Linked DNA regions of Homo sapiens. The protein of the gene in region 2 purifies or fractionates together with the protein of the main gene of each other region. This does not show direct contact. Each region holds a gene or a part of one and is shown on either strand. Other genes may lie near its edges.

What was found. The genes of interacting proteins can lie anywhere in the genome.
Region 1: the proteins of CCDC82 (region 2) and PKP1 purify together in Homo sapiens (affinity purification with mass spectrometry; 2 studies listed by BioGRID and IntAct, with this or other methods). This does not show direct contact.

Annotation. Positions count from the first base shown.
Region 1 is NC_000001.11:201,314,409-201,318,064, reverse strand, and holds part of PKP1 (plakophilin-1), read right to left. Parts: intron 1,513-3,656; coding exon 1,368-1,512; intron 494-1,367; coding exon 286-493; intron 1-285. UniProt on the Homo sapiens protein: A component of desmosome cell-cell junctions which are required for positive regulation of cellular adhesion.
Region 2 is NC_000011.10:96,358,870-96,362,525, forward strand, and holds part of CCDC82 (coiled-coil domain-containing protein 82), read right to left. Parts: intron 310-3,656; coding exon 124-309; intron 1-123.

The DNA.
Region 1 (3,656 bases), on a different chromosome or scaffold from region 2:
GTGGAATATGGATCTTGCCTGGACATCAGCCTTCCTCCTTTTGCTCTTTAACCTCAAAAAGATGGTGACCCCTTGTGTGTGCACACCACCCAAGGTCACCCTCTGGACACCCCTAATTGGGCCAAGGCCAGTGTCACTAAACTCTCAGGATATTAGCCCTGGGCCAAATCTGCACAGCTGTGTCTTGGCCCAGCCTGGAGAGACAGGCTTGCACCCCAGCCTGGGGCCATAGCCAGTGGCCTTGCACAGCCCTCAGGCTGGCTCTCGGTGGCCGTGTTGTCCTACCAGTCAGCTGCTTCTGGATCTCGGCGTTCCCGGTTCTCCTCAGGAGGCTGACTGCCTCGCGGATCCCATTCTGCCTCCGGGTCTCCAGCTTGTTGGTGGTGCTCCTGAACACCAGGTTGCGCAGGGCCCCTGCCGCGGCCTGCTGGACGTTCTGGTTGGGGCTGCGGAGGAGGTCCACCAGCTTGCAGATGCCTCCCAGCTGATAGACCTGCCAGGAAAGAGTTGCCACGCTGCCTGGTCAAGGGAGATGAGGCTGATCTAGTTATTCTCTACTCAAAGGTGATTTTTTTTTTCAGACCAAAAAATCTATCAGTTCAGAAATATTCAAGTCAACCAAAATAAATAAGCAGTGTGAGGTCATGATAACTGACCCAGACCCGGAGGCAAAAGACCTGGATTCAGATCCTAGCTCCCATATCCTAGCTCCCATATCCTAGCTGGGAGAACCTCAGCTAGGGTCCCTCCTCTTTCCTGAGTCCTGCTTTCTTCCTCTGGAGAATGATGGTGAGGACCTGATAAGAGAGTGGATGTAAATACATTTCAAAACCCTAAAGCAGAACACAGACATAGAAATGCATACAAACTTATCCGGGACTCTGGGAAACTCATTTTTGACACTACATCCTTGGGCTGAACTGAAGAACCCTGTAGTGTCCTTCCTGCCAGCAAAGCTTTGGAGGCATCAACAGGCCTGTTTTCTACCGTAAGATGCCTGGAGAGAGAAGGGGAGTGGGAGAGAGGAAGCAGGTAGGAGGGCAGGAGTTGAGAGGTGAGGAGCAGTCATGTTCTTTAGTGGGATTTGAGAAAAGGGGTTTCTGTTGAACCCGTGGCTGGCATTGAAGTCTCTTCCATGACCAATGGAGGAATTGTACCTGCCTAATGTCCACTTAAACAGAGGGCTTTGCTCTGCAGAAAGTTAAGATGCCCAGCTCTAACCTTGGGCAATGCGAAGGCTCCTGGCAGCTGGGCAAGGCAAGAGAAGCCAACTGCAGATGCCCTCACCCATCTCTAAAAGCGGAGTCAGGCTGACACACCCAGGCCCTCCGCAGGCCCACCAAGGAGGAAGGTATGCAACCAGCTACCTGTTGCTTGGCAGATTCATCCTGGAAGCAGGTATGCTGGATGTAATAGGCCCCAATGGCCTGGTACTTCTCATCCTGGGAGCTCAGGTACTGCACAGCCTTGGGGATGGTCAGCCCACTGCACTCGATGTCCTCACTGCAGATCCTGTGAAGAATAGGCAGTGGGGGTGGTTACGGGGTGGGCTGGGAGCCCTGCTGAGGGGGCTCAGAATTCCTCCCAGCACACTAAGCTGCCACAGCCTCATCTGCCCTCTGGAGAGCCAGAACAAGGCAGCCCAGGCCCACTTGGAGAATACCCCTGGGAACAGCTCCTCTCCTCCAGAGGAGGGAAGGCTACACCCACTGGATTTGCCCCATGTGAGAATAGTGAGCCCCTGGTCACAGTTAATGTCCTAGCAGGTATGTTATCTCTCCACTGAGGAAAAACTCCTCCCTATTCCCTGAGGGGAAGCTTCCCACCTACCTTGCCATCTCTCTTGTTTGTGTCTGGTATTAGGAAAATGGAAGACAATGGCCATGATCCTATCCATCCATCCATCCATCCATCCGTCCGTCCATCCGTCCGTCCGTCCGTCCATCCGTCCATCCATCTGTCCATCCATCCGTCCGTCTGTCCGTCCATCTGTCCATCCATGCATCCATCCATCCATTTATCCATCCATCTATCCATCCCCAAGTCCAGCTGGCTCTTACACAAAAATGTTCACATCTAGCCTTTCTTCCCATTCTTATAGCCACCAATTTCCTGATCTTGATCACTTTAAAGGCAGCAAGGGACTTCCATATTTGGCTTTCTTCCTCAAGTTCCCCCATCTAAAATTTCATACCCTTTTTACTAGATAAGTGGTTCTAAAACCCAGTTCACTGTGTTGTTCTCTAGCTCAGAAACCATCAGCGGCTTCTCCATACTTCAGGTTCAAGTTTAAACAGCTTAGCCTGATGTCCAAGGGCAGGTATTAGGTTGAATCATAGGAAATGTCTGTAGTCAACCTTTTTTCAGCCATAAAACCAGAAATTTCATATGTTTTAACCTAATAACCCGGCTCCACTATGAACATTCCCCAGCCCCTATCCAGGGTCTGCTCCAGCAAGACTGTCCCCTTCACTGTACCCTGGCCAGGTCTCAGGCATGCCTCAAGGCACACCACTGGCCCTGCTGATGCCCCACATCTGTGAAGCCTTCCTAGGGAAGGGAAACCTCTCTTCTAAGAACCTCTCCAGCTCCCCTGGTGTAGAGTCACAGGGTGGTGACTGGCTGTGTCCAGCATTCAAAGAGGGAGCCCTATCCTTATGCTTTGACATACTTGGTGGTCAATAAATACCCATGGTTTTAGCTATAGCAGCCCAACTTCATTTCTAGGAAAACCACCCGAGGTGCAGAGTTCTCTGGCACTGGGTAAGTAGTACTGCTGCCTGCATTGAGAGAATGTCACCCTGCATTCATCAGTAAAATGTCACCCCAAAATGGCTTGACACTCATCCCTTCCATATCTCACCTAGAACCTCCACTCAGGGCCTCTGGTTGGGACAATGAGCTGAAGCCAGAGGCTGCCCTGATCAGCCTCCAAGACAGAGAGGTTTCTTAGTTCTTCTCCAGATCATCCTAAATACGCCTTACGGCCATCAGGTAGTTCGGAAACGTCTAGCTCTATAACGGGGTTCTGCTTATTTTCAGAACAGTGTGGTACCAGTAGGGAAGAGCACAGGATGGAGAGCCAGCTGTGTGGCCTTGGACAAACTACTTAACATCTCTGTGCCTTGTTTTCTCCTCAGGAATACTCATGCCTGCCTGGTGGCGGGTGTGAGGATTAAAGATGAAGAATGCAAAGCTCCTGAGGCTCTCAGAAAAGGAGTTAATTGTGTAGCTCCAGAACAGCTCTGGGTTGTCCCTATCATGGCTGTGTCTCCCGCACTTGTCAAAGAGCCTGGCATGTAGTAGATGGTCGGCAAACATTTGCCAAATAAATAAATAACAAGAGCAGTAGGTGGTGATGAAGGACAGTTCAAAGGTTCAGGGAGCCCCCAGCCCTGAAGGGCAGGCTCAGTGTCACTCACGACACCTCTGCGTCTATGGCTCCTAACGGGGCACCCCATTTGGTCTCCTTTGTTTCCTCTGGGTGATGGCCTTCCACATGTATGCACAGGAGTTGTGCTCTGTTCTGTAGCAGTAGATCATGAAGCCCCATGAAGTCCCTCAGGGTTTTTGTTGTTGTTGTTGTTGTTTGTTTGTTTGTTTGAGACAGGGTCTCACTCTGTTGCCCAGGCTGGAGTGCAGTGACACTATCTCAG
Region 2 (3,656 bases):
ATACAAACGACAGAAGAAAGAGATTCTCTTAAATTTCACTATCTTTTAATCATTTGTTTCCTTTTGCTGATCATAATTAGCCTTCAGAATCTACATGATAAGATTCTCATATATTCACCTTACCTCCTTAATCCAGCCATTTTCTTTTGACCGCCTGAAAATTCTTTCCACTGTTTCTTTAACTTGTTCATCTTCAACTTCTTCTGTCATTGCAATGGTGCAACATTCCTGGTATAGTTTGAATTTAAAATGTTTCAGTTTATGATAAATTCTGGTACGGCTGGCACAAATTCTGCCAACAGTGAACACCTAAATCAAGAAATAAAGATTGTTATCTGACAACGAATATATATCCTTTCTGGTTTTTGGATTTTCTTTAGTAGTAGAATCAAAATGCATTATTAACTTCCAGTGTTTACACAATGATTCCTTTACCTTCTCTTACTTATACAACTAGTCAAACACTGAGCACCTGTGAGGTTTCAAACATTGGGCTAGGCACTAGAGATATATAAATAAAATACCTATTACCGGTATTAGGGAGCTTACAGTTTTGAGAGAAAGACAAATGGTTACAAAACAACATGAAAAATGGTATGTCCAAGATGCTATGTCCAAAATGCTAGTGAAGAGGGGCACTTAGCCCAATCCAGATAGAACAAAAGTCCCCAAGCAAATCAAGCTTGAACTAAGTCTTGAAAACACAAGAGTTTGCCAAGTTCGGGGGAAAAAAGAGAAATGGCTTTAATGAAAGGCAGAAGGATGGGCAAAGTAAAAAAAAAAAAAAAAAAAAAAAGCATGAAAAGTATGATAAGTCCATATTTATGAAGTTAAAAATGACTGGATTATAATATTTTTCTAGCTATAAGCAACATGTAAAACTGAAACAAACTCTTACACCAAAATTAAGTATTGGCAGTTTTTTACTAGATACTTTTCTTTTCCCCCCCCAAAAAAAATGATCTAAAGTAAAAAAATAAATCTGTGTTTAGGCATACTGATTGCTTTACTTAAGGTGTTATATGTGAATAAGACATTAATATTTTGCTGTCAGCCAGCTATAAGAATTTTAATTCCTACGTTTATATGGACTTCTATAATTCTATGATTAAGAACTCTTTTTATGAAATCAAATAACCAGAACCTTTCTCTTTCAGAATGTTTTGAATGTTTAAAATTTGTTATACAAAACTACAGCTAAAATAGGAAGACAGTCTGACTGCACTGACCAAATTATTTATATATATTTAATATATATTAATATATATTAAATATAGATATTTAAAATATTTACATATTAAAATATTTATTTAAATATATATATATATATTTTTTTTGTTTTTTTTTTCCTGAGATGGAGTTTCGCTTTTTCACCCAGGCTGGAGTGCAGTGGTGCAAGCTTGGCTCACTGCAACCTCTACATTCCGGTTTCCCTGCCTCAGCCTCCCAAGTAGCTGGGATTACAGGTGCCTGTCACCACACGCAGCTAATTTTTTTTTTTTGTATTTTTAGTAGAGACGGGATTTCACCATGTTGGCCATGGTCTCGAACTCCTGACCTCGTGATCTGCCCACCTCGGCCTCCCAAAGTGCTGGGATTATAGGTGTGAGCCACCACGCCCAGCCAATATATTTTTACCTACATCATTTTACCCACTGTAGAAAATGCATCAGAAAGGGCTCCAAACATTATGATATGGTCAATCTTACTCTCATGGAGTAGTAACCTAAGGAAAGAGTAAACTTCCTGCTGACTTAAGTATTTGTGTCTGTACCTAAGTTCACTAATGGGTTATGCTTTCATGAGTACTAGTTTTAATATTTATCTATGCAACTTGTGTTCTGTCTGACAGAAAAATACACTTGTTTCCTGAGGCCACACTGCAAGGAAACATACAAGTGATGATAGACAAAGCAGGAGTATGTTTCCAAAAATGAATAGAAGTTATATCACAATGATTGGCAACAATCAGGTTTGATGTGTTTTCTTGTGAAAACTGTATTTTGGACATTTTGCAACCCTTCTTCAAATCTCCAAAAGTTTAAGAAAAGCATGTTCAGATTTTTGTTCATGGCTCCGTAAAAACCTTCCTGCTTTTCAGATCATTAGAAGTAAACAGGTATTATTGTACATGGCTTATTAAAATTAACTTTTCCAATTCAACCTTATCATCAAAGCAGTCCTGGTAGTAATGACATTTCAGCAATTCACTTGCTAATACTTCCAACTTTGTGTAAAAAGACAACACAAAAGTTGCCGTGACTATAAGGGTACCCTGTGTGTCTCCATTTCTGCCATCAAAGTAGACTGTGTGGGAGAACTCAGCTATAGCTGTTCTACATGAAGTATAGGCATACGATAAAGTGATTTGTATTTCTTTCACATTTATTCTGTATTTCCACAAAACAAGAGGAATTTATCTGTATAGCATTTTTAAGTTGAAACAAGAGGGAAGGAGAGGTGTTTAAAAATCCTAATTTTTTTTCCTGTATGAAAAACAAGTATCCTTTGAAAATATTTAACATTATGGTTTACTTCTTTCCATTTCTAATTCCTACCCCTCTTGGCATCTACTTATCATCATATAGATCTATAAATCAAAAATTACCTTAAAATGTTCTTGTATTTTTTCCCAAAATATGATCACATTTTATATGGAAGAACCTATATGGAAGGGCATCACTGCTGTAAAATTTCACAGAAAACAGTAGATGCAAAGGATAGGTGTAATACTCCAAGTGAACTTAACCCCTCACTCATTCCTGTTTTTAGTGTATTGTTACAGCCCATTGTATTTCTTTATCATATGAATTGAAGTATACAGTACAATACAGCTTACACTGTAGGAATCAATTTGTATAAAATACTAAAACAGGTAACATTAATCTCTGGTGTTAGAATGATTTCTTTAAATGTCCAGAAAAATATATTTAGAACAACTGTAATTATCTAGTTCAATTTCTGTACATTAAGGAAACTATTCTAACAAGAAAATTAGTATAAAAAATACCAGAGAAAAATAGGTGCTGTGGTGAGTGTTCACAAAGCAAATAAAGAAGATGACACATAAATGATGACTGGCCCACTATGCACGGTTAAGCACAGTTATCTGACCTGATAAATATGAGACTGAGTCAGTTCAGTTATCAGTATGAACCAAGTGATCGCACATATGTAAAAATTGGAAATGGAGCTAAAAATTGTCACTGAATTTTGCTAAAGCAGAAGAAAGAATCTCATTTCTAATTTAACAGCTATATCACATGGAGTGTAAATTAAATCTAGATAACAAACTGAGGCAAGGAAATATAATGAAACATGTACCAGGCAGACTTGGTAATATTTAGCTAACTGTAGGTAGCTTTTTGAAGTATTTCTCTAAGCTCTTATTTATAGGCAGAGGAGCCAGCTCCTTATGGAAGTTAAAGTATGAAGAACAAAGAAAAAGGATTCTCAAGGAAACAGTAAGTCTGGGGAAAAGTTTGTTTTCTGTTTCTGGGTCTTCAGAAACAGATAGTACAATACCAATCCAAAGGGTTCTATTTGCCCTTGTTTGGTTTTTTGTTTGTTTTTTGTACAGACATATTATACAATGCCATTTGCCTCAAAAATTATTGCTTCTTCCCACCAAATCCTAAGCATCTTAAGGAGTCTGG